Homo sapiens: one gene and its partners. The protein of the gene in region 1 binds, or shares a complex with, the protein of each later gene. Links are inferred from orthologs where the notes say so. Each region holds a gene or a part of one and is shown on either strand. Other genes may lie near its edges.

Evidence for each region.
Region 2: the proteins of CTNNB1 (region 1) and LEF1 are in contact, whole or in part, in a crystal structure (PDB 3OUX), measured with the Mus musculus proteins. The link is inferred for Homo sapiens from one-to-one orthologs. Residues at the interface, in NP_001159374.1 of Mus musculus: Lys180, His219, Ser250, Phe253, Tyr254, Thr257, His260, Asn261, Leu264, Asn290, Lys292, Phe293, Ala295, Ile296, Asp299, Lys335, Trp338, Thr339, Val349, Gln375, Arg376, Gln379, Trp383, Arg386, Asn387, Ser389, Asp390, Thr393, Asp413, Ile414; in NP_034833.2 of Mus musculus: Gly11, Asp12, Pro13, Glu14, Leu15, Cys16, Ala17, Thr18, Asp19, Glu20, Met21, Ile22, Pro23, Phe24, Lys25, Asp26, Gln31, Lys32, Glu33, Lys34, Ile35, Phe36, Ala37, Ile39, Glu45, Asp47, Leu48, Asp50, Ile51, Lys52.
Region 3: the proteins of CTNNB1 (region 1) and NR5A2 are in contact, whole or in part, in a crystal structure (PDB 3TX7), measured with the Homo sapiens proteins. Residues at the interface, in NP_001091679.1 of Homo sapiens: Tyr306, Gly307, Asn308, Gln309, Lys312, Lys345, Val346, Val349, Gln379, Trp383, Arg386, Asn387, Asn415, Thr418, Cys419, Gln559, Glu562, Gly563; in NP_995582.1 of Homo sapiens: Ser300, Ile301, Pro302, Glu475, Gln476, Ala479, Leu482, Asp483, Tyr484, Met486, Cys487, Asn488, Tyr489, Pro490, Gln491, Gln492, Thr493, Leu501, Arg507.
Region 4: the proteins of CTNNB1 (region 1) and BTRC are in contact, whole or in part, in a crystal structure (PDB 1P22), measured with the Homo sapiens proteins. Residues at the interface, in NP_001091679.1 of Homo sapiens: Tyr30, Leu31, Asp32, Ser33, Gly34, Ile35, His36, Ser37, Gly38, Ala39, Thr40; in NP_378663.1 of Homo sapiens: Tyr307, Arg321, Ser345, Leu347, Ser361, Ala385, Leu387, Lys401, Arg403, Arg426, Ala427, Ala428, Asn430, Gly444, Arg467, Gly468, Ala470, Ser484, Leu508, Arg510, Tyr524, Arg557, Phe559.

What each region holds. Positions count from the first base shown.
Region 1 is NC_000003.12:41,229,827-41,237,504, reverse strand, and holds part of CTNNB1 (catenin beta-1), read right to left. Parts: intron 4,165-7,678; coding exon 4,061-4,164; intron 3,977-4,060; coding exon 3,638-3,976; intron 3,367-3,637; coding exon 3,208-3,366; intron 1,782-3,207; coding exon 1,662-1,781; intron 1,157-1,661; coding exon 1,006-1,156; intron 918-1,005; coding exon 796-917; intron 1-795. UniProt on the Homo sapiens protein: Key downstream component of the canonical Wnt signaling pathway.
Region 2 is NC_000004.12:108,158,610-108,166,287, forward strand, and holds part of LEF1 (lymphoid enhancer-binding factor 1), read right to left. Parts: exon of another isoform or gene 7,672-7,678; coding exon of another isoform or gene 7,663-7,671; intron 6,555-7,662; coding exon 6,488-6,554; intron 5,093-6,487; coding exon 4,959-5,092; intron 1-4,958. UniProt on the Homo sapiens protein: Transcription factor that binds DNA in a sequence-specific manner. Participates in the Wnt signaling pathway. Activates transcription of target genes in the presence of CTNNB1 and EP300.
Region 3 is NC_000001.11:200,030,248-200,037,925, reverse strand, and holds part of NR5A2 (nuclear receptor subfamily 5 group A member 2), read right to left. Parts: intron 2,897-7,678; exon of another isoform or gene 2,664-2,896; coding exon of another isoform or gene 2,624-2,663; intron 902-2,623; exon of another isoform or gene 1-901. UniProt on the Homo sapiens protein: Orphan nuclear receptor that binds DNA as a monomer to the 5'-TCAAGGCCA-3' sequence and controls expression of target genes: regulates key biological processes, such as early embryonic development, cholesterol and bile acid synthesis pathways, as well as liver and pancreas morphogenesis.
Region 4 is NC_000010.11:101,348,888-101,357,362, reverse strand, and holds the start of BTRC (F-box/WD repeat-containing protein 1A), read right to left. Parts: upstream 3,199-8,475; 5' UTR 3,183-3,198; coding exon 3,135-3,182; coding exon of another isoform or gene 2,754-3,134; intron 1-2,753. UniProt on the Homo sapiens protein: Substrate recognition component of a SCF (SKP1-CUL1-F-box protein) E3 ubiquitin-protein ligase complex which mediates the ubiquitination and subsequent proteasomal degradation of target proteins. Recognizes and binds to phosphorylated target proteins.

The DNA of each region.
Region 1 (7,678 bases):
AAAAACCCAAGTAACACACTACTCACTGGTAATTTGCTTTTTTTTTTTTTTTTTTTTTGTGTTGGAGTCTGGCTCTGTCACTGAGTGCAGTCTGTTAACTCCTGGGTTCAAGCAATCCTCCTGCCCCCGTCTCCCCAGTAGCTAGGACTATAGGCATCCATCTCCATGCCCAGCTAAAGATGGGGTTTCACTATGTTGCCCAGGCTGATCTTAAACTCCGGTCTCAAGAGCTGCATCGTTGTAAACCTAACAATCTCTCTTTCCATTCACTCAACAAACATAATCCACTGTATGTCTGTGTACCATCAATGATCTCTATAGAATGGATAAAATATCAGGATGTTCTAGTTTTATTAGAAACAATGTTTCAAGGAACCACCTGTACTGAGGACAAATGCTGAAGAAAAATTCATAGCAGAAATTCAAATAGAAAAGTTTTATTAAAGTTTAGTAAAAAATACTGATAAACTGTCCTCTTAACAGTGTTTAACACTGCCTCTTTCCTTACATCCTTTTGAAAAATCTTCTTTAATCTGGTAACATTTTTCATCTTTCTCCCTTATGAATTATAATTTTAAATAACACAACTTATTTGTAATGATTCTGAACAGACTCTTTAAAGCTTGTATTATAGTTCTTCCTCAGAGCAGTTGCTAGACAGCATAAAGAAGAAATACTCAAGCCAGGGAAACATCAATGCAAATGAATGTGTACTAAGTGTTTTGAGAGGAAAGAACAAGCTGCCATACCTGCTCTAGGAAACTACCAGATAAATAACTGCTCACATTTCCCTACCTCATTCCAAGCCATTGGCTCTGTTCTGAAGAGAGAGCTGGTCAGCTCAACTGAAAGCCGTTTCTTGTAATCTTGTGGCTTGTCCTCAGACATTCGGAACAAAACAGCAGCTGCATATGTCGCTAAGAGACAAGGAGAAAAAGGCCCTTGAGGAAAAACTGAGACTTCAATGTACACATCTGCTAAAGGCTTTGGTTCCTTTTTACTTACCCACACCTTCATTCCTAGAGTGAAGTAACTCTGTCAGAGGAGCTGTGGCTCCCTCAGCTTCAATAGCTTCTGCAGCTTCCTTGTCCTGAGCAAGTTCACAGAGGACCCCTGCAGCTACTCTTTGGATGTTTTCAATGGGAGAATAAAGCAGCTAAGGAGAAAACACAAACAAAACCTAATTAAATCTAAAGCTAAAACATGGCAAGCCCCCCACTGTGGTGCAAACATTCCCAATTCAGAGTGCAAGAGGCATTCACACTGTAGTAAATAATATTCTCTGAATTTTATGTCTTGGGGTGTTTAATGCTCTGGAGCACTGGATTTCCATAATATTTTTTAGCTATAAACCCTTTCTTCAGAGGCAGCTCTAACTGATCTAAGATTTGGAAAACCCAGAATTGGTTGGGGGTCTATGCCCTGCCTCTGGCAGCCCAGGTCAGCTCTCCCCTCTAGGCACCCATAAAAGTGAAATGTGAAATCTCCTCCCTCTTCTCAAGTCTCAATGTTTCTCTTACTGACCAAAAAATGTAGGGAATTTTCATAAAATTAAATGTTGGTAACCCTATTATGGTCCCTAATTTTCTGAAATGTTATTAGTCATTACAATCTGGAAATTTTATGGACATAAAACCTAGAACACTTCACTTAAAACATACCTGCACAAACAATGGAATGGTATTTAGTCCTCTGATAACAATTCGGTTGTGAACATCCCGAGCTAGGATGTGAAGGGCTCCGGTACAACCTTCAACTATTTCTTCCATGCGGACCCCCTCCTGCCAAAAGAAACATGGTTAACAAACAGGGCATTCTCCTCTGTAAAGTTTGAGGAACAATTATTAGACTGTAATTATTTACATTATATACCCGAAGTTCCCCGTAACTTGCAATTAGTTCAGGAAGGAAGAAGGATTCCATTAACTTGAATGTCACTGAAAAGAGGCCTCCTGGCAGCACTAATTCAAAGCAGCACCCCTCCCCCATACACAGTGCAACAGAGCTTCCATACAGCGCTGAATCCCAAAGACAACTTTCCTACAGTAAGGGCACCAATCATTCTGGGTAAAAGGTATATAAAAAGAGAAGATGAGAAAGTAATGCTCAGACTATGTCAACGTTTTTCTTTTACATGCCCCCTCTATTTTTGTATATCTTCCATGTATTTGGTGAAAACTTTGCCAAGTTTTAGCACCAACTGCTAAAACTAACCGAGTTGCCAGCAGAAAAATTCACTCCTCACTCTTCCAAGACTATTCAGCTGACAGCCTCATGTATAGAAGGAAGATAGCTTTTGCAATATGTAAGTACCATCTGTTTCTCCTGTTTCTGGATTTGAGTTTTAAAAGGGGTTATTATTCTGCTACATTTAGCAGCTTTTATAAATAACTTGATTCTTACAAGGACACAAAAACTCTCTTCTTCCTAGAAAAGAGATTTAAAATAAAAGGTGCCCTCAACGTTCTATTAAGTCACCTCATGGAGATGGGCCAATACCAACAGTAATAAATGAAGAAAGCCAAAGCCCCAATATGAGTACATACACAAAGCAACCAGCAAAATGAGATTCCTAACATCTGTTCTGGTAGGCTCCATCTTTGTTTTCTAAACTAACCTAATAAGGTCTTAAAGTCTGAGAAATCAGAAATGTCATTAGACTATACTTTTAATGAAGCTACTTTTAAGACACAAACTTTGTATCAAAGCTTCAGGTTGAGATTTTTGTGGTTAAGAGTACAGAAATGCTACTACTTATTTCTGAATATTCTTAGGTCCATGAAAAAAGTTTAACTCACAGAAAAGATAATAAAACGGACTGCTAAATATTTATAGTCAAAATGCATGATGAGGCAAGGGTAAGAGGCTCTGAAATTACACAGATTTGATCTCAAATTATGACTCTACCTCTTCCTAAGGAAGTGGGCCTTTGTGTAAATTAAATGAGAACACTTTATGAAACACCTAACCCAACCTTTGTAAGACTGACCATGTGAAGGACGTGTCCAAGGAAATATCACTGGGGCCACACTATGCCTTATTTTCTCTGCAGCCATAGAAATGTGTAATTATTTATTTATTTACTTTGTCATTAGCTCTTCAGGAAGACGGATGGGGGGAACCAATGACCAAAGAAAGAAGTTCAGGATCCTTTGGATTTATGCATTCCTTTTAGATAGCCAGGTATCACTGTAAGAATTTACCTACCACAAATTGCTGCTGTGTCCCACCCATGGACGTACGGCGCTGGGTATCCTGATGTGCACGAACAAGCAACTGAACTAGTCGTGGAATGGCACCCTGCTCACGCAAAGGTGCATGATTTGCGGGACAAAGGGCAAGATTTCGAATCAATCCAACAGTAGCCTGAAAAACAGAAGGAAGAACTGGCATACAACTCAACAAAATCATTTTCTTACCCTAAAATTCCCACCACACTAAATCTATTGGTATCAACTAAAAGTAGTTCTGACTACACAAACATTTCAGAATCTTACCCCTATCGCAGCCATACTTCCTACTTACTAAGGAATACAATTCCTACTTATTGATCACTATGCTTAGACAGCCATCCAACAGCTAGAGATGCTTCATTTTCAATTCTGCAACAAAGGTAAATTCTACTTTGACAATTTACCTTTATCAGAGGCCAGTGGGATGGTGGGTGTAAGAGCTTAACCACAACTGGTAGTCCATAGTGAAGGCGAACTGCATTCTGGGCCATCTCTGCTTCTTGGTGTCGGCTGGTCAGATGACGAAGAGCACAGATGGCAGGCTCAGTGATGTCTTCCCTGTCACCAGCCCGAAGGACAGTACGCACAAGAGCCTCTATACCACCCACTTGGCAGACCATCATCTTGTTCTTATAATTATTGCAAGTGAGGTTAGAAAGAATTCCAGCTGCACAGGTGACCACATTTATATCATCTGAACCCAGAAGCTGAACAAGAGTCCCAAGGAGACCTTCCATCCCTTCCTATGGAGATAAAAACAGATGGTCAGTACAAGCACATACTCATCTTGACTCTATTCCCATGGCACCAGTTTACTCAGAATTTACCTGTTTAGTTGCAGCATCTGAAAGATTCCTGAGAGTCCAAAGACAGTTCTGAACAAGACGTTGACTTGGATCTGTCAGGTGAAGTCCTAAAGCTTGCATTCCACCTAGAAAATTAAAAAGGATATAAGGCCCTAGTCATTAGCTAGAAGTGCCTATCAATCCTAAATATCTGTTCTAGCCTTAGGAGGTGTCCTTCTGTATTTCCAGAGTTTACTTCCTTTCACCTAAGTATTTGATTTCCTCTCATTTTCTAGAATGTTGCTCAGTTTCCTTCACTTTGCCAGTTCACCTCACTAGTGACAAACTCTCAAATAGCTACTGTTCCTTTCCTAAGCCGAAAAAGCCTTTGTTATCTCCACTGTCCCCCTTAGGTAATATTCTTATTACTCATTTCTTTTCATCCATTCAATCATTTCAAAAATATTTATTCAGTACCAGGTCCTGTTCTGAGCTGCAGATAGACCAGTGAACAAAAATATTCAGAAGTTCCTACCCTCAGAATTTATGATCTAGTTGGAAGAGGCAGAAAAATATACAATAAACTAAAACCATACAGTATGTCAGATGATATTAAAGGGCTATGGAGAAAAATAATGGAGTGGGGCTGCGATTTTAAATAGATAATTAGGTCACCTCACTGTGAAGGTGACATCTGACTAAAGACCTAAAGAAGCTAGGTAAATTCCTGGGGTAAGAACAATCCAGAAAGACGGCATGAAAACACTTACTGTCAGGGACTTTATACAATTCACTGACTACAAAACATGTGTTCCAAGGTTTACAATCTTCCATCCTTTAGGACCCTTAAATGGGGGACATTTACTCTGGCAAAGGAGTATAAATGGAAGCCCAATGCCCACATAGTAGATTAACTTCGCTCATCCATCTTCAACTTAAATCACTTCTGAATGCAGTAAGAGATACTTTTCCTTGTCTCCTTCATCTTTCGGGTCTGTTTTATTTCCTCAGATGAGGTCTATCTGCTGTAATTCTTATGGTACCCTGCACTTCTCCTTCATAGTGTAAGTTACTCCACTTTCCCTACAAGACAAAGATCACCTCTGTTGGGTTCCTTTTTCATAGTAGCTCCAGCTACTAATAGAATGATCTGCGTAAGACTGATGATCAGGATGCTCAGTATTTGTGAAATGACTACCTTCTTTCCCCTCTTTAAGACTTCATTCCCTCCCTTTACATAACTATTAACTCTAAGAGAATGGATTTTAACCCCAGATGTCCATCAGAATGGCCTACAGAGACTTTAAAACACACACATTCTGATTCAGCAGTTCTAGGGTAAAAAAAAAAGTCCCATACAGATGACTCTGTGGCACCTCTACCTCCCCTTCCCTGCTGCCCTTACCCCTATATACTAAGAGGGAAACTTCCAAATCTCTAGCCTGCCTCTCTTGCATTCTAGTATCATACATTTCCAGCTACCTACTGACCTTTTAAGTCACTTTAAGTCAGCTTCTTAAATTATTATGTTCAAAAATTAAGGATGCCTTCTGAGGGTTCCATTTATCTTCATGGTACCAATGTTGTCCCCTCCACAAACCGTTTTTGGTTGCTCCCTTAGCTCCTATATTATTACATTCTATGATTCTTTCAGGCATCTCAGACATCTGCCCTTTGCTATTGAGTTCTAAAAGCAAACTATTTCATTCCTAAAAGCCTGTAACATCTCAGTAGTCTGGTCTTCTAGCTTTTGGTCATTCAAACTGTTAATCTATACAATGCTATTATTAATATTTTAAACACACCACTGTGATGCTTTGCTATTGATAAACAACCATCGAAAGTGTCTCAGCATCCTTTTAAGATAATAGAAATACTTTAGTATAACCCTGAGGAACCGTTTAGAATTTGGATCCCACCTAGCCTTCCAAACTGACCAAAGTATTCTGTATCTATGGCTCCAAAGCTGGAATAAAGCATGAATAAACTCCATGAGTAGTAACTATCTTATAGGAACCTAGAAAGTCCTGCATGTTATGGCTCTGCTTACCTAACCTCAACCTCATACCAGGCCATCCACCTCATTACTAAGTTCTGTTTATGCAGACCTTCTCTTCAGCACCTGGATCTCCACAATCTCTTTCCCTTTTTTTTTTTTTTGAGATAGAGTCTCACTCTGTCGCCCAGGCTGAAGTGCAGTGGCGCTATCTCAGCTCACTGCAAGCTCCGCCTCCCGGGTTCACACCATTCTCCTGCCTCAGCCTCCCAAGTAGCTGGGACTACAGGCGCCTGCCACCACGCCCGGCTAACTTTTTGTATTTTTAGTAGAGATGGGGTTTCACTGTGTTAGCCAGGCTGGTCTCGATCTCCTGACCTCATGATCCGCCCACCTCAGCCTCCCAAAGTGCTGGAATTACAGGCGTGAGCCACCGTGCCTGACCAATCTCTTTCCTTCTAAGGCAAGCTTGTCCAACCTGCAGCCCATGGGCCACATGGCCTAGGACAGCTCTGAATGTAGCCCAACACAAATTCGTAAACTTTCTTAAACATTATGAGATTCTTTTGCAATTTTTTTTTGTTTTAGCTCATCAGCTATCATTAGTGTATTTGGTGTGTAGCCCAAGACAATTATTCTTCTTCCAATGTGGCCCAGGGAAGCCAAAAGACTGGATATCCCTGGTTCTAAGACATAGCACATGGTGTTCCTTTTCTCTACCTGGAAAACGTTTAACCCTCACTTCTCATATAGACAAGAGACGGTTCCCTCTCATCCTGCAGTCCCACTTAACATCCCCTTTTCAAGGAGACCTTTTCCCTCTCATCTAGACAATTCCCCTCCCCATTAATTCTCATCACTATTTGCTGTCATTTCTCCCATAACACTCATTCTAATTTAGGATCACATATTTTTAAGTATTTTTGTCACCTTCACAAGACTAAGAATTAAGCACGGGGACCCTATCTGTTGTGTTACCCAATGTATACTATGTGCCTATTCCATTTCTTAAAATACATTAGATGCTATTTTCAGAATAAACAAATGAACATAAGAATAACCTGGAAGAACTTAAAGATTCCTAAGCTTCCAGTCCCATACATGTCCAGCTATCTACAGACCTCCCTGTCACTTCAAATAAAACACTATGAGATCTTGATATAAAAATTAACACTCCAGGGATTCTGATTAAATAAATCTCAAAATCTGTATTTTTAGCCTACATTACAGGTTACTGCTGGAACAGCTGACAGAATTTACATCCCATCCCCTCATTCTATATGAACTCAGCCACATTTGTCTATCCCCAAGACTATGGTTCCTCTGCCAGTAGTTACCTGGAGCAATCATAATGTCTTTCTCTCTCATAAATTCCCAAGTAAAATTACTCTCAATAAGTGAGAAAAGTAAGTGTTGCCAGCCCTATACTTTATTCCCAACATTTTCTTCCATTAAATGCCTTTATATTTTTCCTTCTTTCAATACTGATTTGAAGCTTGCTTTGAAATTCTGAGTAAATGTTGTTAGGTGGGTTACTGAAAGGAGAAAAAATGCTTGGTAGCTAAAAAGTAACTGTTTTCATGACACACACACACACACACACACACACACACAGAACCCAAGAGGCCCTAGTACAAACCATCTATTCTTTTCCCCAATTGCCA
Region 2 (7,678 bases), on another chromosome or scaffold:
GTCATGTCTATGATACATAAATGAGGAACAAAAGGAGTCAAAAATGAAGTGTTTTGATTGCTCAAAAAAAAATTCAATCACATAAACCCAAATGGTTCTGTCTAAAGAACATTAAAAAAAAAAAACTCATCCGCTACAAAATTGATATTATAGCAAGTGCTTGTGAGTCTACAAATTCAAGTCCAGAGAGTCCCATTTGTGAGACCCTACCTCTGCTCTGTTAAATCACATAAGGGTCTCGGACCACAGGGAAGACTCGATCAAAATAATGAGGTTGATGAGAGCAAATCTAAGACCTGTATGGGAGTGGAAAAAATACTTCAAAAGCAAGATTTTTGCGGATTGGCTCAATGGTCTTTTTTTTAGTGTGTGGTCTTTTTTTTTTAAGACTATCTTTTGGGTTGTTCTCATGTCTTTATCAATGAAGAAGAAACTACTAGGGTCATTTCAAAAAAACTATCTGAGTAAGAACCAGGCATGTAAATGCAATATTAGCTCTGCAAGGGTTACATGTAGTATGGCTTCCTGGCACACTTAAATAAGCAAACTGGCCATAAGGTATTTGATGGGGGAATGGCAAGCGCTTCCAATTATTCTGACTATGATCCTGTCCCAAATTGTAGCAATGCCATGAAGGAGGGATCAAACAGGAAACTTTGGGGGCTCTGAGGAATTTTCCCACACATTCTCCTGACATCTATATATACATTTGAGTTAGAATAATACACTTTCTAAAACTTATTCTCCACTTGAAGGGGAAAACTCAATGTGTTTAGCTTCAAAAAGTGCACAACTTAAAATAGAAAAGTGAAAATTATTTATAGGTTAAGTCAAATTCAATAGCTTCTTGCAATAAAGTGAAAAGATACTCTACCTTAAAAATCTTGCATGAGATATAAGCCTTAGTCTCCATCTATCCTTGAATATTATTTATGTGATTATTTTCAAAGGTATCCAACAATGTCACGTACAGTGGTACATTCAGAAGCTTACTGATTAGACAAGTCCAACTTAGTTCCTTAATTCCAGATGTGAACAATGACAAAATCAGATTTTAGCTGTTTATAAGCAAGTACAAATATGCAGGGTAGGTAAGACAAAGTTATAATAGGTATAATTCTGTTTAATAGAAACCAAAGTGTTGATTCCCTTAAGGTAAAAGTCACAACAGAACTAAGTTATACAAGGTAATTAGAAAAGAACTCATGGAACATTTTCATAGCAATTTCTACTTTAAAAAAATAAACATTTTAAAAGATAGCTGAAATGAGAACACCCATATCTTTCCTTTCCCACCTAAAAATTGACTCTTAGAAAGATCACAAAGAACCAAAAACAATGAAGTTTGCAGCGCTACACTGACCAGGTGTTATTGTGGTTTGATGTGACTGAGCTGCAACGTTTGCTGCAGCTTCCTGCACTGTGTTGCTTTTCCCTCCCCAAGCATCTGAAGAGAAATGAGATGTTTCTTTTCTAAGGTGTTAAACATTTGGGTTGCATGCGGGACAAATGGAAGATTGACGCCTAAGATGAATAACCACAGTGCATTAGGCCAGTGGGAACTTTCACTACATTAAAGCTGGCCAAGCTCACCATTCACACGGTGTTCAGGCACACAACTGCCAGAGCCAAACTAGGGATGTAAAGAACTATTTTTTTCTTTTAATACTTTACCATTGGCCTACAGGGATTTTCATAAATAAAGTTCAGAGAACGAAAGGTTTGGGAGTATGCTTTTAATAAACTCTCCAGGGTCCTGGCTCTAAAATATTTAACAGGCTTCTGCATCTTCTCTTCACTCTCTGTGAAGAAGACCAACTCAAGCCAAAGTTTACTATGCCCTAAGAACTCACGCTGACACCAAATATGTCATGATAGGTGCTTTCTTCTTAGACCCAATTTATCTGAACTAAGAATTCTTATTTAAAATTCTGTGAGAGACCCATTCATAAGATTTCTGGTATAGACACATTCACACCCCTAAGGATTCCAGTTCTAGAAGGATGTAATTTGCCAATTAAAATTCCCCTTGAGAAGAAAAAAAGCTGAGTAGGTGAAAGTGGTGCTCCTGAACAGGTAATACTGTATATTGGTCATAGGTAAAATCTGTTCCAGGATACACACAGTAGCATTTGTCTAAAAAATAAGCAAAAGCATATGCACTTTTTATAATTAGATTCCAGCAGAAACATTTCTCTGCATGCCAGTTGGCCATAGCTGGTATCCTCTGGATTGTCTGCAGTTAGATACAAACAGAAGACTGTTTAGGGAAGGAGTGGTCAGGTCCCTCCCCCACCCCAGGTGTTTTTCCAGTCCTAACACTTTTGGGAAGCAGATGCAGTAAACAAGCAATTGTTTGTAATGGAAATTCAAGAAGCAGGATGCCAAGGGGATGCTCCCATCCTAAGCCCAAACACAAATGGTCACCATGCTCCTGACACCCTAGATGAAAATCTATCACTGTGGATGTTAGTGACACAAACACTCAGCCCTGCTAAGGACAGAGTTAAAGAGCAAGAAGGCAGAAGTGTGGTTAGGGGTGAAGAAGAGAGGCTGTCTTCCGGTTAGTGTTTTTGATCTCCGACACATTAAAAACAGCTGTTAGGTATTAAAAACCAAAGATTGTAACTCACTTCGGTTGGACCCTAAAAAAAAAATTTACATAGTCTTGTGGTTACAGCTGAAAAGCTTCTGGAATTGTGCAAACTGCAGAATATCTCAAGAAAACATGCCTAAAATAAATACATCCTAATATTTAACAGAATAAAGCAAAGCAACAGATAACAGGGTAAGGTAACTGTTTCCTGACCACACCTCTTTCCTACACTTTACCCAGACCAACATTTATTCTGGCCACAAATCTTTCCTAAACAATGAATGACTGTTTGATTCACTGACCTCAAAATTTTAATACATACACTAACAATAAATACCTTCTATCAAAAGATATTTTCTATCAAAATTTCAAAATGACTAGTATACTGGTAGATTGGGAGAAAAGACTGTGGAAACACAAGGCAGAATGCTGGCATAAAGAGGAAGATCAGCTTAATTTTCAATATTCTTAGGGATTGCTTATAAATACCAATAAATTTTCATTATATTGATTTTTTAAAATTACCATTTTGAAAGGAGAAGTAGCTGATCTTTTTAAGAAATAAATTCCACAAATGCTGTATACTCACAGCTGAAAAACGTAAGGCTGTTTTGTGGCTATTTTCTATTGTCACCAACACTACTTTGATTTGGAAAGATTATTTGTTATTCTGAAAATGATTTAACAGGAATCTTCAAATATTCCTTATCTAAAACATATTCTCCTTCCCTTCTCCACCCCCTCCAAAAACAGCAAAAAAACCTGCCCAAATATTAAAGAGATATCTATATATTTGTATGTTTTGTTCAAAAATTTAAAGTCTCCTACAACTTTTAAAACTCAAGCATTTATTTGAGGGGCCTCTAAATATTAAACTATTTTTGCTTTTTTAAATTACTTTTTAAGTAGGAGATTCATCCTCATCACACAGACATCTTTATCATTAAATACTTGAAAAGCCTTAAAATAAAATATGAAATACCTATTTCTTACAGCAACCATCACAAGATCTCCCTCAAGATTAGAACCCCAAGATCTCCACTTTAACTACTATATAAAAATTAGAAAAAGCTTATTCCTTAGCTGAGAGATCAAATATCCTTTAGCAATTTATTGGAAAATAATTACAATAACATCTAAATTGCAGTGCTCAAAGTGATCATATTTGATATAAGTATCATTTCAACAACTGAAGATTATGTGTAATGATAACCACAAATACTCTTGTTGATAACTGTTGATTTTGAGCCACTATTCTCTGCTAGTGAATCTTCTCACTCCCAGATTTTGTTCACTAAGGTATTAACAACGTTACTCTTCCCAGATGTTTGTGACTGATTTTTTTCAGTTGGTAGAAACACTGGGCAAGTAAGTCAAACACTATAGGTTCCATTTTACAATCTGAGATTTGACCTCCAGGGCTGTCAGTGAGACTGGAACCCTAATCCCCGAGACCCATAGACATGTGTTTTTCATTGGGGGTTAGGTGATAAAGGGAGAGTGGGGCTGGAGAGAAGGTAAATATATTGATGGGTCAGTAAAAAGTCCGTCACCAACGCTGGTGGGCTAATTCTAAGAGAGAACTCCATCACCAGCACATTTTACATCTACATACTACACAAGTTACCATTTAGGTATTTTCTCACTTAAATGAGGTTTCCACTTCCTAAGAGAAATATCATCAAATAAACCTGAAATTCTTTATAATGTTATGCATTTGCATAATGCAGTTATAATACCACTGCATTTTTAGAATTTTAAAAGTTAACTAAACCACAAGATTAAAAAAAAAAGGAACAACTTTCATTAGGGTTATCTTTGAGTGATGCTTTCTCAACAATTGACAATAAAGCAAAAATAACTCATCCCCGCCAAACCGATCCTAAGGAAACATTGGCCGATACAATAAAACAAGACACCATTTGAAAAGCCAAAGTAACATAACAAACATTCAGCTCCAAATGAGCTAAAGTAGCTCTGATTCTAGAAAGCTTGTGGGCATTAAAAGCTATACAGTCCTTACTTAGCTGAAAAAGTAAATCAATTTTTTCCTCTCATCAGCATAGAATGCACAATACTCATAAAATCAGGGATTTGTTGATGTAACTTCACTTGATTTTATAACTTATGATCTGTTACATATTTATTTTAATCAATAAGCCAAAAGCTAAAATTTCAAAGGCAAGACATCAAAGGTAGCACTGTTTTAAGGTGGCCATTCCTCATAACAGCTCTTATTTAGCAACGACTAGTTATATATAATGAAAGCATTACCAATGAGTTTGGAAAAATAAACATTCTGCCAAAATACAAATCAATTTGCACTTCTGAACATAATTTGCAACATCAGCATGTTACTTACTGTTCTCGGGATGGGTGGAGAAAGAGATCCATTTGACATGTATGGGTCGTTATTCATATTTGGCATCATTATGTACCCGGAATAACTCGAGTAGGAGGGTCCCTTGTTGTAGAGGCCTCCATCTGGATGCTTTCCTGGGAAGATCCAAAGAACAATCAATGATGCACTGACTTCCCTTTTATATTACTGTATTTTTCATCTGAAAATCTAATAGTTCTAAGATAAATCAGACCCTACATAAAAGATTTGTTTACAAAATACTGTAACTGGATTATTATGCTCTATTTTAGATTGACAGTATTTATTCTCTTAAATAGCTTAGCAGCAAACCAGATGTTTTAAAAACATGTAGTTCAAACAGTTCTTCCACTACTGACTGATGTTTTTACAAAAATAAGTGTTATCCATCTAACTTAATTTGTTCTAATACTAACAAACTGGACTAAAATATACAGAACACACACAACTTTAAAAATGTAATATAAATATATTAGGCCATCTAGCTACACACAAACACAGAGATTTATACACTTGAAATTATGTTTTGCCTTGTAGACAAACTCAAAGATTCTACCTGTGCTTGCAGATTTCTAGAAAAATTTCTAGATTCTACTGAAAGAGTTGTTATCTAGTATATAGGCAACTATCTAAATTTATAAAGGATTAACTCTGGGAGGCTTAATTTTATGTGCTACACTTAGATCATTTTGCCAAAAAATTTCTGTTCGATATGTGTATTTCTTCTTGTTAATCTGTGTAACTATCTTGTAGCTGAGGAAGAAGCCTAATATATAATTCTCTTCCCTGCTCCTGGTTGACATATTGTATGTAAAAACACTTCATTTCAGTTAGGCCAATTGTTAAGTAATTAATGGAAAACAGATAGGCTGACAAGAAATCCCTAAGGTTACTTGATTCTTTTAAAGTCACAAAGAATTCTCCTTAAGTCTAAATACATATGTATGTAATTTTAAAGTTTTTAGCAAGAATCAGAAATAGGGAGAAAGGGTATCATTTCTGATATGCACATTCCTAATTATAAGTTTTATATTTTTACAAGTTAGATTCTGCTCTGCTCATTTACTGCCGGCCTTTTCACTGTAATAAGGAACAAGAAACAGCAATTTTGCAAGTGAAAATCCACTCAAAACTATTCTGGTTGGAAAATAAATCGATATATACTGTCGTTCTTCTTAATAATATATTAAAAATACTAAAGATCTAAGCTAATTAGGATTTAAGGTAAGATGAGGAAGAGAAAAACTCATTGTAGACATTCCCTCTTCCCAAAGAATCTGGAACCCACCTGAAATCCAAGGGTCCCTAACTCATTCAAAAACAGTTTTTAAATTATGTAATATATATTAGAGGTAAGCCATAAGTTTCCTGCGTTTTCTTTACCATTAAAATAGTGGGCATAGTCTGACCTAGTCCCAGTTTCTTGAACTCAAAAGTAACAAAACACACCTATTTATACAAATTGCACCCCTTATCTGCTAAAGTCAGAAGAAGTAGAATGGGTGTCTTACCGTCATCGGGGTGTTCTCTGGCCTTGTCGTGGTAGGGCTCCTGAGAGGTTTGTGCTTGTCTGGCCACCTAACATCATGAATCCCCACACCCAAAAGAAAGAAAATCACCTTAGAGTTTGTGACAATAATGGTACAAATGTGTGTGCGCTGGTAATTCAAAGGAAGAGGTTTAGGGGCAACTCTGTTTTATACTCTGAGAGACATACGCTAGTGTTTAGTACTGCATAATCCTTTTCTTGTCAACATGTATTTTTGAGTGATTATTATCCACCCGGGACCAAAAACGTATAAATAATAACAAAACCAATAAAAATATAGTTAAATTTGGGAATGATCCACATGCTGTTCTGACTGCTGTTTATTAAACCATATCAAGGCTCCTTGGATGCCTAATATTACAGGAGTAGGAGTTAATGGGGTTGATGGTTTCGATAGCCTCTTCAACCACTGTTCACTTCAATCAGATCTGATTAAAAGAAGGCTGAAATATCATTTTGCAACTGAAAATGGCATTTAAACATAAACAAGCCAACCACTCAGATGCGGTCTTAAGGCAACTGCCCTGAGCGCAGTTACAGCAGAAGCTCCACTCGAGCTTATAACCTACTATGGCTGGCTGAGTGCAGGCTTACAAAAGTAGAACGATTCTGTGGTTAAAGGGAGGAAAATTAGAGAGTCAGGTTATAGACATCTAAAAGGTAGCCCAGTTGATATCAGTTTTGGTAATCACCATCCACCCAGACAGCCTCAAACACGTGCAAATCAGTGGTATTACTCCTTCACCCTCAGGCCTCCTCATGCCCACTTAACACCCGAGTGCTCTCGGATTCGAACGCAGTGTCCTTCACCCGGACCAGAAAATTGTGGAGAATATGAAGTGGGTGGCAAAATTATTTATGGACTAAGGCAGGACTAGCAAAATGGGTAGAAAGAGAGGCTGCTCTACAAATAGGAGAGTTTGGCAAAAAGCCTGTGTTTTGGATGTTATTCGGTTCTCTGGACGTGTGTCCTCCCTTTGACCTCCTTTTCCCAGCACACAGTAGTCACAAATCTTTTACGCGGGGTTAGGTGCACCCTACCCCCGCCCCCAGCCCGCTCAAACTGGATTCAACGGGTAAAGAACACCATTCTGTTCTCTGAACGCAGGCCCCCAGCCTTTCAAAATTCGTACTCACCTCTGCCATTGGGATA
Region 3 (7,678 bases), on another chromosome or scaffold:
CGGTATTTGGTGACTTGGAAATTATTCCAATCTTTGCAGTGCATAATGTACATAAAATGGGTTGTTCATCACCCACCCACACCTGGCAATTCAGGTACTACTGACTCTTAATTGATTTGTCATTTTGCTCTTCAATATATATTCAGGATCAAAGTTATTTAGACTTCAGCTTTAGTAGCAACTTCAGGTTTCGTGGAAACATTTAAACTTATGAAGGCCTGTCCATTAGTTTGTATGGAGAAGTGGGCTGAAGTTGCCAAAAGCTCCAATTTTTGTGATAGTATCAAGTATCACTGTCACTACATTTCAGTATTCCTAGTTGTTTTAAGTATCACTGAGAACTAAGAAAATAAAGAAAGGGAGTCAGTTTCAGGGCTCACTGCAGTGGTTGCCCTGCTTTGCTCGTGAACTTTGAAAATCAGTTTATTTCAAAGCCTTAATTAAGAAGAACCTCCTCCCACAGCAATGCGAAGAATTTATGGGTGCACTTATGATACAGCACCTTTCCCAGACCCTAGCATGGCAAGGATGCAGGACTCCAAACGCTTGGTCCTAAGAGGAAACCTCCAACCCCTAGTGTGTGGTGGTGATTTCACCTCTGCTTGGTGAAGCCGGGGGAAGTTAGGAGAGTTGAAAGAAGTTGAAAGAGGGTCTGACAGGACCTTGAAATTGTAGTGTATCAAGAAACCCTGCCTTGGCTTGAGGCTGAACCTGAGGCTGAGGCTGACCTAGTGAGACAAGCTTTGTGACCATGCTCATAACGCCAGCTGCCAGGGCCAGAAGGGACTTGCTTAGGCCACACTAGCGACTTCTTGGTCCATGCCAGTCTACCCTCCCACCACATCCCCGAAAGATGGAGAGTGGTGGTGGCAAAAGGCCAGCTGGCACTCATTTATCTCTCCACAGGTGGACTTTCCAGGAAAGAAAAATCCTCACAAAATGGGAGGGGTGCGGGAGGGAACGGTGGCTGGGGACTGGGTTTTAAAAATCCATGCTTTAAAAAATTAACGCAGGAGCTTGTATCACGGAGGGAAGCCCTTTCCTTTGCTTTGAAAGTCTAGTCCAGGCCAAAACCTAAGCGTAGCAGCGAAATGGAGGGGGACTGAAAGAGCAGAAAGTCTCGAGCGAGAGAAAACGACCTTTCCTAAGAACCAAGGGAACTCCTAGCTCAGAAGCCTAAGCCCTCGGCGCTCCAGGCCTTTAACTCGACGATGGGAAACGCTCCCTGGGGGCAGCCCTATTTCAGATCCCCTGGAAGGATGTCAAGATCCCCGCCAGCAGTGGACAAGGCAAGGAATCTTCCACTGGAATTGATTCTTGCCAGAGACCCGAGGGCACACAAACCTTCCTCAGGTAGCTCTGCAAGGGATTTAAGGAAGCAGCTGGGTCTCCATCCAAGAGGCAGAGGCAGGGGCGGCGGCACCAGGCTTCCAGCGTCAAGCTCATTACTGCCCTCCAAGTGCACCCTTTCTTCTCCCTCAGAACTCCCTCCTCCCTCTGAGCACTCACTCTGGTCCTTTGACCCTTCAATTCTGCTGGGCAAGGGACCCCTGTTGAAGCCGGGGACCCGCTAGCTCAGTGACCTTGGACGGGTCTGGGCGTCCCCCAGAAAGCCCTCTCCGAAAGGAAGCTGTGGGAGGAGGAACCCGAGTTTGCGGTGTCTAAGATGGGTTATTTGAGAATGGTTCTGGGTTCCCGAGGCCACAATATGAAGACAGCCAAGTGGCTGCGGGAAGGGAAAGCAGTTGAGATGTAAGTAGGTGGAACCGGGTCTGTGTGGTCTAAACGCCGGCGCCAGCGGTGGTCTGCACTGACCCATAAATACACCTACCGCGGGTGGACAGACGCATCTCATCCTCCGCCGGGGACATCTTAGCAACTGCCACTGTACCTCTTAGTGTAAGCACACTTAGGAACCCACCCCGTACTTACCGCTGCGGGAATTGTAACTGGTGGCGGAGACCAGAGACTAGAACCCGGGAGGCCTGGGAGTCTGTGGTGAGACCGGGGGACAGCTCTGCTCAACTACCTTGCGCGTTCTCAATTTCTTTGCACTCCCTCTGCCAACTTCTGGCAAACTTCTCTCCTTTTCCCCCACCTCCCCTCCACCTCCTTCTTTCCGACGAGACAGGTCTCCAGGGCTCGCCCTTCCCGGTTCTGACTTTGTCTTAAAGTGTTGATTGACGGTTGCAATTACGAAGGATGATGGCTCGGGGAGGCTCCCGCAGCCTTGATGAGCCGGAGAAGCGCAGTCCTAGCATATTTTATCCACGCTCGGCGTTACGGGGCCGTGCGCGCCCCATTCACCCAGCTGGCTGGAGCTGAGGAGGCCTCGCACTCCCCACTCGCGAGGATGCAACTGCCTGCCTTCCTCCCCACCCCCTCCTTCCCGTGGTTCAGCACCGCATTTCGGAGCGTGAGCTGGGAGCAATCAACTCGACCTGACCTGGAAAGTGTTGGTCAGCCCCCGCGCGCTTGACCCGTGCGGGCTGCAGCGGGAAAAAATATCAGGATTTTCAGGAGCGGTTCAAGTTTCCTGGGCTCGCAAAAGGTGTGGCAGACACATCTTTCCCCGCGCGCCTGGGTAGATGACCCACCCAAACTTGCACAAAACTTGCAATACCTTCCTCCTTCGAAACAATTTCTCCCGTCTTCTCTTCCATTCCCACTTTTTGGTGCTTTTTAAGAAACCAGGACAATTACTTTTTTCGTCCCACATATCTACCTTTTAGACCCCGAAAGAAGTCTAGATTTTTTTCAGATCTCCATTACTAGGCCAGGATAGCCCGAGGGGGAAGAGGAGCAAGTTTTTCAGCCTACGGGAGCTCCGGGTCTGCCTAATTTTTCCGCCCCTCCCAGCCGAAAAACCCATCAGAAGCTGCTTTTGCCTTTCTCTGAAAAGTTTAGCCAGAACTCCAGTTTCATTCCCTGGCTCAGAGGGCTGGGCTACCCGCCCACGCCCGTAGGCTCCACCCGCCCTCATCCCGAGCGCTTTGTATTAGAAACAGACGGGTTAAATTTCAGTACAGCCATAGGAATTACCAGGGAGCGTCGTGTTGATCGAAGCTTTAAAAAAGCAAACCTGAATAGGTGAGCAGTCGTGCCTTGTTTAAAAAAAAAAAAAAAAAAAAAAAAAAAAAAAGCCTTTCTGCTGCACGTGTGAATAACTACTTAAGACATCAACATCAGCCCCTAGAGCAGGATGGCGATTGATTCACAATCACTATGAGAGTATCTCGATCTGGCGTGGCGCGGTTTTTATCGCGGAGGAAAACGAAAGCCGAAGCAATTATCTGGGTAATCCAACCTACCCCCCACCCACCCCCCCGGGCAACCTCCCACCCTTGCCCCAGAGGAAAGGAGGGCTTTTTGGAGAGTTTGGCCTGGATATCGGAATCTACGGCTCTTTGTATAAAAAGAGTTCACTGAAGAACCTTTTCACTTATTTTCTTTACAGCACGTTGTCCCAACCCAGGGGTCCTGGAGTGCCCCGCCAGGGTATAGTCGGTGCCCTTAGAAGAATGTAACAGGGAGATCCGGTCTTAAGAAAGGAGTGGGGCAGGGGAAATAATCTCGGGTAGGTGGTCTAATCTATCTCTTCCTCTCTGTAATTGAAATGGAAATTTGAGCCAGTTCCAGTTCAAAACTATTGGGACTCCATCCATTGGAATCAATTCTGTCCAGCCTCGGGGCCAACAGAACGACGATCCCGGCGCTAGTAGGCCACAAAGCACCTTGTGAAACTAGCTGAACACTTGCAGTTGCATCCTTTACACCCTCTCCTCCGCTTCAACCTGGGTCAGGAACAAAATCCTTAGCACGAGATTATTCTAGGCTGCCATTTAAATGTATCCGGCGATACTGGAAACTTCTTGATGGAAGGGGAAACATCCTGCATTGCTTCAGAATTCCTCGGCTTTTGCAGCGAGGGGATGGATCCAACCAAACTTCTTCCTTCAGAAAAGCCCCTGCCTGAGCTTCTGATTCTTAAGGTCAAAGAGTGCCGGGACCGCAGAGGTGCGGAGTCCAGCAATTTGGGTCTCACTTGGTCAGCAAAGAAAGTGGGAGCTTGGAAAGGCAAGACTTAACAGTGGTACCGTCACACTCAAGCATGGGGCGTGGAACTAGGGAAAGTGTTATGGTCTGGGCAGTTACAGAGGTTGCACAATTAGAAGGGCGTGGGCTTTTCCAACATGGTGATAACTTTCGCGATTACGAGATGGTGTACAGTGTGTGCCAAGGCTTGAGAGAGATTCACTTGTTTTCTCCAGAGTTTCTTGTCTGGAAACTGGGAAGTTGATTCCAGGACCCAGCAGTGGATTCCGACCAATTTTCTTTCCATTCCTGTAGAGGCCGCTGGAGCAGGTGGAGCTTGCAGAAGGCCGGGAAGCAGAGGCTGCAGGCATCCAAACCCTGAGCAAGGAATCCAGCACTTACCGTGAAAAATGCTAGCATGGGTGTGGGACTAGCATATCTCACTGCAAGAGGCACAGCTGGGTTTGTCAAAAGTGCTTTTTTTTTTAATTGACACCTAAATTGTCTTTCCCTATCCCCTCCTCTCATGGTACAACAGTATGTTTGTTTATGCTATCTAATTCAGTCACTCAGTTTGAGTGATTTCCCTGCCCTCCTCATACTCACTGACTCTATAACAAGTACATGCTCTGAATTTCCTCTCAGTTCCTTCTCACCATCTGTTGGTAACCCTGCGAGTTGTTACCATACACCACAAATTCACAAGCTAAACTTCATCCAAACTCCAGAGATCCTTTCCAGGAAACTCCAGAGTAGGGGACCAGAAGTGCCTTTGTCCCACCCCACTCAGACCTCAGTCCTCCCAGATGTGATTTCCACTCTGCTTTCCATACACCACTCCCTGTGCCACCCTTCTGAATTCTAGAAGGATCCAAATATGGTTTCTACCGTGGAATGGAAATGAAGATTAAAAAGCCACTTACAAATATGTTTCTTAAGCTCGAAATGTCCATTGGAGGAAAGTCTGCATAGACCAACATTGTATTAAATCATAATTCCTTTATATCAACAAGAACAAGTGGTTACCACTTTGGAGAAAGAGTATGTATTTCAGAATATTTCTTGGGTTCTATTTACAGTTCATTCTCTTGACAAGCTGAGTAAATTGCTTGACCTCTGATTCCATTTTTTAATCAGTAAAATTGGGTTAACAAAGTAAACTTTATAGTTAAATGAGACAGTGCCAGGAAAGAAATATATTACGCTGGATATATATATATATATCAGTTCCCCTTTGTCTTTCCCCTTAGCTTCACTCAAACTCATCATTCTGTAAGGAAAGTAAAAAGGGAATCACTAACCATTCTAGGATCACCTTCCAGTGGGATGTGCTTGCTAACTTGATTGTCTTGCAGGGCTTGACAAAGTCCTTGGGGACAATTACATTATCACCAGATAAAACTGCTCATATAAGTGCTCATGGTCATCTGCATTCAGGTTATTTGGTGTTTAAAAGTTACACTCCAAATATCTTTTCTTACTTATCAACCACACAAAAACATACATAACAGCTTCCCAAAAGACTAAAGAAGAGACAACCTTTATCAGCTTGCCTGGTCAGTTCCAGTTCACATGGTTTTCTCAAGCTTGATCTCTCAAGATCATATTGGTCACATTTCAACACTTCCCCAGGGCCTCCCCAGAGCACAATGCCCTCCTGAAGTTCCTTGAAGCCAACTGGATTTTTCCAAGAAGTCTGTTCCAATAAGGTGAAGCGTGAGGAAGTGCAACTCAAAGAACTAGTTCTATCCTAAGGTAGACTCTAGAGCTGCGGAGTGAAGTTGTCTTGCCTGCCTAGTGCATCCCTGGGGGTGGGGATTGGGTTGGGCCTGTAGGTGGAAGTCTGACAATGTGCCCTTCTCTAGCTCAACTTATGCTCAAGGCTGAATCCAAGATAATCCTAGACATTGTGTCTGGTAGAGGGGTCAAGTAAAGGAGAGAAGCATTAACAAGCCTCTGTTCTCCCTTCCTCTATAAATCTCTCTTGGTTTGTTAGAAGAGGTGTTAAAGATGCCAGGTGTGGTGGCTCACATTTGTAATCCCAGCACTTTGGGAGGCTGAGGTGGGTGGATCACCTGAGGTCAGGATTTCGGGACCAGCCTGGCTAACATGGTGAAACCCCATTTCTACTAAAAATACAAAAAATTAGCCAGGCGTGGTGGCGTGCACCTGTAATCCCAGCTGCCTGGGAGGCTGAAGCAGGAGAATCTCTTGAACCCAGAAGGCTGAGGCTGCAGTGAGCCAAGATCATGCCATTGCACTCCAGCTTGGGCAACAAGAGTGAAACTCTGCCTCAAAAAAAAAAAAAAAAAAAAAAAAGGTGTTAAAGAAAAAGAAATCCTTTTTTTGTTTTGTTTTGTTTTGTTTTGTTTTTTTGAGATAGGGTCTCACTTTGTTGCCCAGGCTGGAGTTCAATGGCACAATCACAGCATCCTCAACCTCCCTGGCTCAAGTGATCTTCCTACCTCAACCCCCAAGCCCTAGTCACTAGGACTACAGGCACATGCCACCACACCCACACCCAGCTAATTATTTATTTTTTTATTTTTTGTAGAGACTGGGTCTCACTATGTTGCCTAGGCTGGTCTGGATCTCCTGGGCCCAAGTGATCCTCCATCCTCAGTCTCCCAAAGTATTGGGATTACCAGTTTGAGACACTGTGCCTGGCCCAAGAACTCTGTTAACTCTGGTCACTACCTGTGGATCCAGGCCAGAAAAGAGGAATCTGAGAAGCACTGTTTTGGAGATGGACTCGGGCATGGAAAGAAGGGAGGCTCTAGAGTTTAGCTTCATAGAAGAAACTGGCAGCCTAAGCCCCAACTATGAGAATCAGAACATGGGCTTGTGTGGCTGGCATTCTAAATAAAGCTCGCTGGAGGTTAGGGTGACATAATGGCTATCACACTTTCCGCTGATGAAACGTCTACTTTCAGAGATCCTTATGAGCACAGAGCTTGCTGGAGGTTATCACTGAAATAAAATCAGACTCAGAGTGTTCAGGGGACCAGATAGCAAGACTCACATTACAGACTCAATACAGTGTTTGCACTGTGTATCATGTACCCCTAAGTATGCAGACATAACCTTCTGTGGATAATATGCAATATTATACTGAGTGCATAAAATATTCTGCAAATGCAGTTAATTTGAAGAATTATGGAAATTTAATATGAATCAAAGCATAATATTGGGCACTGTGGGAGTGGTCAATAAATATTTGTTTTATGTATAACATTTCCTACCACACAGATATGGCTCTTTTCTTGATATAGGTAAGTATAAAAAGCTTCTAAAGTTAGTACTGCATATTATTCAATAGAATCATCCCACTTGGGAGAAAGAAGTAAACCAAGACCAGAAACCAAGAGTCTGGCCAGTGTCCCAGAGTTAGTTAACTTTAAGGGAACAATCTAGTTATAACCTGAGTGTGCTGCTTTTACACTACAATGAATGATTATCTTGCAGGTAGGCAGAAGGAACAACTTTATCTTAATTCTGCTTTTCTATACAAGCACAGACATCTATACAAAACTTTCATGTAACCATCAGTGTGCATACAAGATGTAGCCCCTAGTTAAAAACCATGGAGACAGCTTTTTAAACAAAAGGAGGCTCATTTCCTAGTACAACACAACTGAATTAA
Region 4 (8,475 bases), on another chromosome or scaffold:
TTCAAGTGATTCTACTGCCTCAGCCTCCCGAGTAGCTGGGACTACAGGTGCGCGCCACCAGGCCTGGCTAATTTTTGTATTTTTAGTAGAGACAGGGTTTCACCATGTTGGCCAGGATGGTCTCAATCTCCTGACCTCGTGTTCCGCCCGCCTCAGCCTCCCAAAGTGCTGGGATTACAGGCATGAGCCACCACGCCTGGCCAATATCTTCCTTTTTTGTTTGTTTGTTTTTTTGAGACGGAGTCTTGCTCTGTCGCCCAGGCTGGAGTGCAGTGGCGCGATCTTGGCTCACTGCAAGCTCCACCTCCCGGGTTCACGCCATTCTCCTGCCTCAGCCTCCCGAGTAGCTGGGACTACAGGCGCACGCTGCCACACCCGCCTAATTTTTTGTATTTTTAGAGAGACGGAGTTTCACCATGTTAGCCAGGATGGTCTCGATCTCCTGACCTCGTGATCCGCCTGCCTCGGCCTCCCAAAGTCCTGGATTACAGGCATGAGCCACCGCACCCGGCCTATCTTCCTTTCTTAAAACTGACTCTGAATAAACAGACATGTTATAGCAGGGTAAATGGCACCAAAGGGAAGTTGTGACTTACTCAGATTCATAAGACTGTTACTGCACTGAAAGAGAATACCCAATCTCAAACTCTCCATTCTCTGTTTCTTTTATTAAGGTGTCATTCTGGTGACCCTCTTCTAGTTGACCTTTTCTCAAATGGCAGCCAAAACAGCAGGCAAGGTCAATAATGAAAGTAACTAAAATTAAAAGAAAAAATTGGCTTCTCCCTATGAAAACTGATTCAAGATTTAATAATGTGTGGTGCTCTAAAAGCTGCAACTACTATATGGTCATCTCCAAGTCCACTTTAACTCAACCAGGGAGGCCATTATCAAAACATAACTCACTGGTACAAAGCAGAGATTAAGTAGCTGAGAATGTTACTAGGCTGAAGTCTAACTGAGAGTAAAAAGGATGATCTCATAATGTCTCTTTATGATCTGTAAATCACATTATTCCATAAATCTGACACAAATGTCAGGATTAGGATTAAGAGTCAACCCTCTGCTGGGCGCTGTGGCTCACACCTGAAATCCCAGCACTTTGGGAGGCCAAGGTGGGCGGATCACGAGGTCAGGAGATGAGACCATCCTGGCCAACATAGTGAAACCCCGACTCTACTAAAAATAAAAAATTAGATGGGCGTGGTGGCCCACACCTGTAGTTCTAGCTACTCGGGAGGCTGAGGCAGGAGAATCGCTTGAACCCAGGAGGCGGAGGCTGCACCACTGCACTCCAGCCTGGGCGACAAAGCAAGACTCCATCTCAAAAGAAGAAAAAAAGGAGTCAACCCTCTAAGTAGGAAAACAAAAATAAGCAGTAACAGTTTTCTAACTTAAGTGTAGTAACTTTCACTTACTTCTAAAGTCCAGTAAAAGTTCAAGGTCTCTTCTTCATATTTAGAATTTTAATGTTGGGCAGAAATCCAAGAACCTTCTTCAGGCTCAATGAAATTTTGTTAATGATACCCCTGAATTTTAATTAGGTGTTTTCGAAAACACTAATGCAAGATAAAGTTTTAGTGAATTTGACTAGATTCCAAAAAAGTATTCTTATAAATGGGGCAGTTTAAAGTCTAAAATTCAATTTTGTTAGTATCCATGTTTATCTGGATTTGTTACGGTATTTTAGGCAAAGATACAAAATAGCTATTTTTTTAAGCAAAGGAGTAAGATTTGGAGTGACAAGTCACAATAACTTCTGAAAAAGCAAGACTGGACTGCAAATAATATCAATGTCCCTAAGGCCACCTGTTAAGCTTAAAATCTATGCATTCCATCATTCTTTAGTTGTAACCACAAAGTCTGGTTTTACACCTAGGAAATACAAAAAGCATCAGATTAAAAGCATCAAATATCAGACTATACGAGTTTGCCAAAGATAAGCACAGCAAAAAGAAAAGCGTGATACAAAGTTAAAGAAATATGTTCCAAGGGGTTTAAGCACACCCACAAAATCCAATCTTTGCTCACACTGTGCTTCAACCTAAAACTGACGGGTAACCACAAATCCTGACTTATCCCTGACTTACTTCCCTCTACCAACCTCCACCCTTTTTATCTCCTAAATTTCTCAACTGATCTCATCACTTCTTATGGGTCTTTGCAACTCTCATCTCCACGGCCTTTCCTTTCCCAGAAAATGATACAAAGCACCTGGCCTCCACATTTTACCGTCCCACAATTTACCTTTAAATTTTGTTTTGCTTACCCTATTAGATACTCATTTTGCCCCAATCTCCTGTACCCATGTTTCCCTGACAATCTGCTCTTACTTTTCATCACCTTGTCCTTATTACAGTATTTAGCTTCTCCTTTCAAAGTAGCGTTATGTACCCCTCCCTGACATTTGTAATTCTAGCTTACAGTCAACACCCTTTTCCCCTCCCAGGGACTGTCATTATAGCCCTAGGTCCTCATTCCCAGTCCTTATCTTCTTTAGTGAGGCCTCTTCCCTTCCAGAGTTTGTCAACAGTAGTTTGGCCAAGCTGGGATTCCACCCTCAAGGCAAAGGCTATCCTCCCTCCTCATTCTACAAAACTATAAGCCTCTCACCAGCCCTAGCGTTCCCTCCTCCACCCTTAAATCCATCTGCATCCAGCCCTGCCCGTTCCCCTCTACCCACCGTATCTGTCTTCACTCTATCCCGCGCTCCCTTCCCCAGTCGTGAATGCACCTCCTCTCCCGGGCCTTACCGGTAACCCTGACACCAGGAAGGCCCCGCCAGCGGCCTCACGGCGTTTCTCCAGAGAGCTTCCTCCGCTTTTCAGTAACAGTCCCCACGCCCCTTTCCCTCCAGGGCCCCGCGCGCCGCCTGGAGCCCCCTCCTCGATTAAGCTCCCGCTGTCACTTGGCCTCTCATCCACAAGATGGCGGAGCCGCTGCCCCCACCCCTGGGTCCGCTCCGCAACCCCCAGCCTCCTTTCTGGAGCTCCCATCCCATCCCTCCAGCCGCTCCGCCGCCAGCCTCGGCCCAGGGTCCCGCTGCCCGGTCCCGCAGTGGGCGGGCGGCCCAGGCCAGCGACGCCGCCAACGCCAGCGCCTCCACCGTTCCCCGGCCTCCACCGTCTCCTCACCATAAACTTGAGTGCCTTCTCTTGCAGCACCGCCTCGGCCGGGTCCATAATCGCCGAGGCCACTGGGTCCGCTCTCCGCCGGGGCCGCCCCTTTGGTGCCAGGCCGCAGCCAACGCAGCGCCCGGATCCCGCCTCCTCTTCCTTCCCCCCGCCCTCTCTTACCTCTCAGGCGCAGGCTGAGGGGCCAAGGAGAATCGGCTTCTCCGTGCGCAGGCGAAAGCCCACTGGCTCACGGGATTTGTAGTTCTGGAACTTCCCCCAGGAAAAAAACTGAGGCTACGCCGTGAACCGCAACTCCCACAGTTCACTGCGGCAGCGTTGCGGTTGCCCACAAGCCAGATTTAGATAAGTTGCCATTACGCAGAGGAAATCGGCTGATGGGAATTGTAGTTTACAGCCTCTAAGGATGAGAAACGGGAGGGGCACGGGTGTCTCCGTGGTTACCGAGCGACGCCAGTAGCGGCTTGCCTGGCATTTGATATCAAGATGGCGGCCAATGCCTCACTTGTAGCCCAAATACTAAGAAAAACTGTGGCAAGAATCACGGGTCCTAGGACCTGCCTAACTGTGGTTTTAGGAAGCTGAACGTCCCCAAATTTCATGTATCTGGCATCTGCAGGTTTGCGACCCAGAGTAGCTGGGCCAATGGGCACCTGGCAGCAGCTCACAGACAAATGCGGAATTTCAAGGTCCTCCTAAGCCATCGCCACCCACACTTCTCCCGAGGAATCTTTTCTCCCCCACAGCAAGTCAGGGCCGAATAGAACTCGGTTCAAGAAATTCTCAGTGTTTAGAGCTCAAAAAGCACATAACTTGCTATTGCTAACTGTGGGATGTAAGCCCTGCACTAAGGGTCAAACAGGTACTTAACAAAAGTCCTTCAACGGTGGAATATAATGGCCTCCAGCAAATAAAGCATATAAATATTTTCTTTGGCCTGAAAAGGTACAATATGGGTTTATTTTGGAAATTGGGTCTACCTTAGGAGGAGAAAACTCTAGGGTTTGGTTAAAAGTGATTTAGGTTGTTTTAAGCTGCTATGTTTGTGATAATTGGTTATACAGCCTAAAAAACTGACACACACCCAAATGCCCCTCAGCAGGTGGTTGTATGAACAAATTGTAGCATATTCCATATGTAGCACAGTGGAATATTACTTAGCAATGAAAAAGAACAGTATAACAACAACAACAACAACAAAAGTGATTTAGGGCCAGGCGCGGTGACTGACGCTTGTAATCCCAGCACTGTGGGAGGCTAAGGCGGGTGGATCACCTGAGGTCAGGAGTTCGAGACGAGCCTGGCCAACATGGAGAAACCCCCGTCTCTACTAAAAATACAAAAATTAGTCGGGCCTGGTGGCACGCGCCTGTAATTCAAGCTACTCGGCAGGCTGAGGCATGAGAATTGCTTGAACCCGGGAGGCGGAAGTTGCAGTGAGCCGAGATCACGCTACTGCACTCCAGGCTGGGCAACAGAACGAGACTCTGTCTAAAAAAAAAAAAAAAAAAAAGTGAGTTAGATTGTGACAGCCTTGTACAAAATATCTGAATTTATAAAATAAATGAACTAGGAAAATACTTTTTGACTTATAGGAAAAAATCTCCATTTTAAACTATCTTATTCACTCAGTCATCCAACAAATGGTAAGCATATAACCGTGTGCAGACATCATCTCAAGAAATAGGGATTCATCACTACTTGGGTGGCTAAAATATCAGACTTCACCACTATAATTCATCTATATAACCAAAAACCACTTGTACCCCAAAAACTATTGAAATAAAAATAAAAGTAATTAATTAAACAAAAAGAAAAAGGAATGGGGATTCATTAATGAACAAGACAGACCCAGTTATTTCCTCGTGGAGCTTACACTTTTACTCTGTTGATACTTTGTCCTAGCCCCTATATCCACAAAACTCAGCATGATACTTAATACATAATAGGCTTTCAGTTAATAAAAAGTTTTGTTCTTGAATTTTTAAAAAAATTCTACACAAGTGCAAAATGGAGAAGACTTCAAACGCATTCGTATGAAAACTAGCTGGAGGTTTTCAGAGGACTAAGGCAGTAACAGGATGGAGTTACAAAAAAAATAAATAAATAAATAAATGAAAAGATAAGGTGGGATGATGGTGCAGCCACTGGAAAAGAGTATTCCAGGCAAAGGTAACTGCATTTTTGGTGATTGATTCTGAGAACCAAAACAAGATCAGTGGGACTTTAGAGGAAGAGTGGCCCTAGATGAGACTGCAGAAGAGTATGGGGCTCTATAGGCAAGCCATTATTTAGCCGGCATAAACTGGTCAGATAAATCAGCTGACATGCTTTCTAAACTGGCATCAGGGCCTGTACCTTACCAGATATAAAATACCTTGACTTTCACTCCAGCTTATAGGCCAAGTTCAGTCATTTAGACTGTATCCTGAGAGCTGTGAGAAACTAGCTGAACAATTTAAAAAATGGTCAGATTTGCATTTTCAGAAAATCACTCAGAGTCCAGGGTGGAGGAGAGATTAAAATGGAGCACAGCTGGAAGCTTGGGGAAAGGATTATGAGGTTGCTGAAATATTCCTGGGAGAGATGATGGCAGCCTGAATGTGGTGGTGAGAACAGAAAGAAGTAGATGGATTCCAGAGATACTAAGAAGATAGAATCAGTGGAGTATGGTGATTGATTAGATGTGTCATGGATGATGTCAAAAGGATGTGTCAAAGATGACTTCTATGTATCTGGCTCAGGTAATGAATGAGGGATGCCATATATATGTATTTTTTTCTTTTTTTTGACAGAAAGCACAGTAGAAGTGGTAGGAGGATAATCAGTTCTCTTTTTGGACATATTGCTTCAAGGTGCCTGTGAGATTTCTAAGTGGATTCAGATGTTGAGGAGGCCATTGGAGATTTGAAACTGAAGTTGGAGGGAAAGACCTGGGCTACAAATAGGGATTCCAGCATGTAGGTGGTAAATGAAACTCCACTCCCGCTTCTTCCCCCGAAAAGAATGAAATCATCCAGGGAGCTGGGCATGGTGACTCACACTGGAAATCCCAGCACTTTGGGAGGCTGAGGCAGGTGGATTACCTGAGGTCAGGAGTTCGAGACCAGCCTAGCCAACATGGTGAAACCCCATCTCTATGAAAAATACAAAATTAGCTGGGTGGGGTGGTGCTCACCTGTAGTCCTAGTTACTCAGGAGGCTGATGCAGGAGAATCGCTTGAACCCAGAAGGTGGAGGTTGCAGTGAGCCGAGATCACACCACTGCACTCCAGCCTGGGTGGCAGAGCAAGACTCTGTCTCAAAAAAATAAATAAATAAAATAAAGAAAGAAAAGAAATCACCCAGGGAAAGCATAAACAGTGGAAAGAGCAACAGGACTAGGACAGGGTCCTAAAGAACTGTAAGATTTATAGGACGAGCACAGGAAGAGGAGCCTACAAAGTAGCCCAAGAAGTGACCAGAGAGGTAGCAGGAAAGTCTGGTGAGTGAGGATCATGAAGGGGTTAGGGGGTGCAGATGCCACACTGCAGCCTGTTGAAGAGGGAGGTGAGGATATGAAGACTGCTGAGTCTCTTCTTTACAAAACGTGGCTATCTAGGGAAGGAGAGAAAAGCTAGCACAGTGGTGGGATGTAGAAGTTGAGAGTCTAAGGAAAGCATTGTTTTGTCTGAAAGAAGGAAGATTTTAGTTCAAAGGAAATTGAAGAAGCATGGCAACTAAATGCAATGAATGATCCCTGATTGGACACAGGAACAACACACATACACTGACACTGATACACAGCAGAGAAAACAGCTATAAAAGGCATTAATAGGGCCAGGTGCAGTGGCTTACACACAGGTGTGGGAAGCCAAGGCAGGAGGATCTCTTGAGCCCAGAAGTTCAAGACCAGGTTGGCAACCTGGCAAGACCTTGTCTCTCTCTCTCTTTTTTGAGACTGAGTCGCGCTCTGTTGCCCAGGCTGGAGTACAGTGGTGCGATCTCGGCTCACTGCAAGCTCTGCCTCCCAGGTTCACGCCATTCTCCTGCCTCAGCCTCCCAAGTAGCTGGGACTACAGGCACCTGCCACCTCGCCTGGCTAATTTTTTGTATATTTAGTAGAGACGGGGTTTCTCTGTGTTAGCCAGGATGATCTCTATCTCCTGACCTCATGATCCACCCGCCTCAGCCTCCCAAAGTGCTGGGATTACAGGCGTGAGCCACCGCGCCCAGCCTAATTTCTGTATTTTTAGTAGAGACAGGGTTTCACCATGATGGCGAGGCTGGTCTTGAACTCCTGACCTCAAGTGATCCACTCGCCTCGGCTTCCCAAAATGCTGGGATTACAGGCGTGAGCCACCATGCCCCATGCCCAGCTCTTAAAAAAATAAAATTAAATAAATAAAGACATTAGTGAAACAGTCAGGGAAAAACTGAATATGGGCTGTGTATTAGATAACAGTATTTTATCAATGTTAAGTTTTCTGAGTGTGATAACTGTGAGAATAAGAAAATCAGAGAATGTCTTAGATGATACATGCTGAAGTATTTAGGGTGAAATGTTATGATACCTGCAGCTAACTCTCAATTGGTTTAGGAAATAAGGAAGGTGTCTATGTGGAGTGAGAGAGAAAGAGGGAAGGAGGAAGGGAGGGAGAAAGACAACTAAAGCGAACGTGGCAAAATGTTAAGAATTGATGGATCTGACTGGGTGTGGTGGCTCACATTTATAATCCCAGTACTTTGGGAGGCCAAGGTGGGCAGATCACTTGAGGTCAAGAGTTCCAGACCAGCCTAGCCAACAAGGTGAAATGGTGTCTCTATTAAAAATACAAAAAATTAGCCAGGCATGGTGGTGTGTGCCTCTAATCCCAGCTACATGGAAGGCTGAGGCAGGAGAACCCCTTGAACCCGGGAGATGGAGGTTGCAGTGAGCCGAGATTGCACCACTGCACTCCAGCCTGGGTGACAAAGAGAGACTCTGTCTCAAAAAAAAAAAAAGGAAAATTGATGGATCTAAGTGAAGGGTTGTAGGAATTCGTTGTACTCTTCTTGCAACTTTTCTGAGGGTTTGAAATTTTCCAAAATTTAAACTTGGGGAATAAAATGAAGTGAGATACTTGAGCATATTTAAATGCTGATAGAAAGGATCCATTAGAGAAAGGCTAAGGATGAAAGAAAGAGGATAATGATGGCAACAGTTCCTGAGAAGACAGGACAGAAAGGGATCTAGGAACAGATGGAGGGATTAGCCTCCTCTGAGAGACAGGAGGAGGAGCGTATGAGGACAAATAAAGTTAAGTTTAGAATTGGCAGAGAAAGGTTAAGGTAGTCCCTTCTTCTTCTTCTTTTTTGAGAT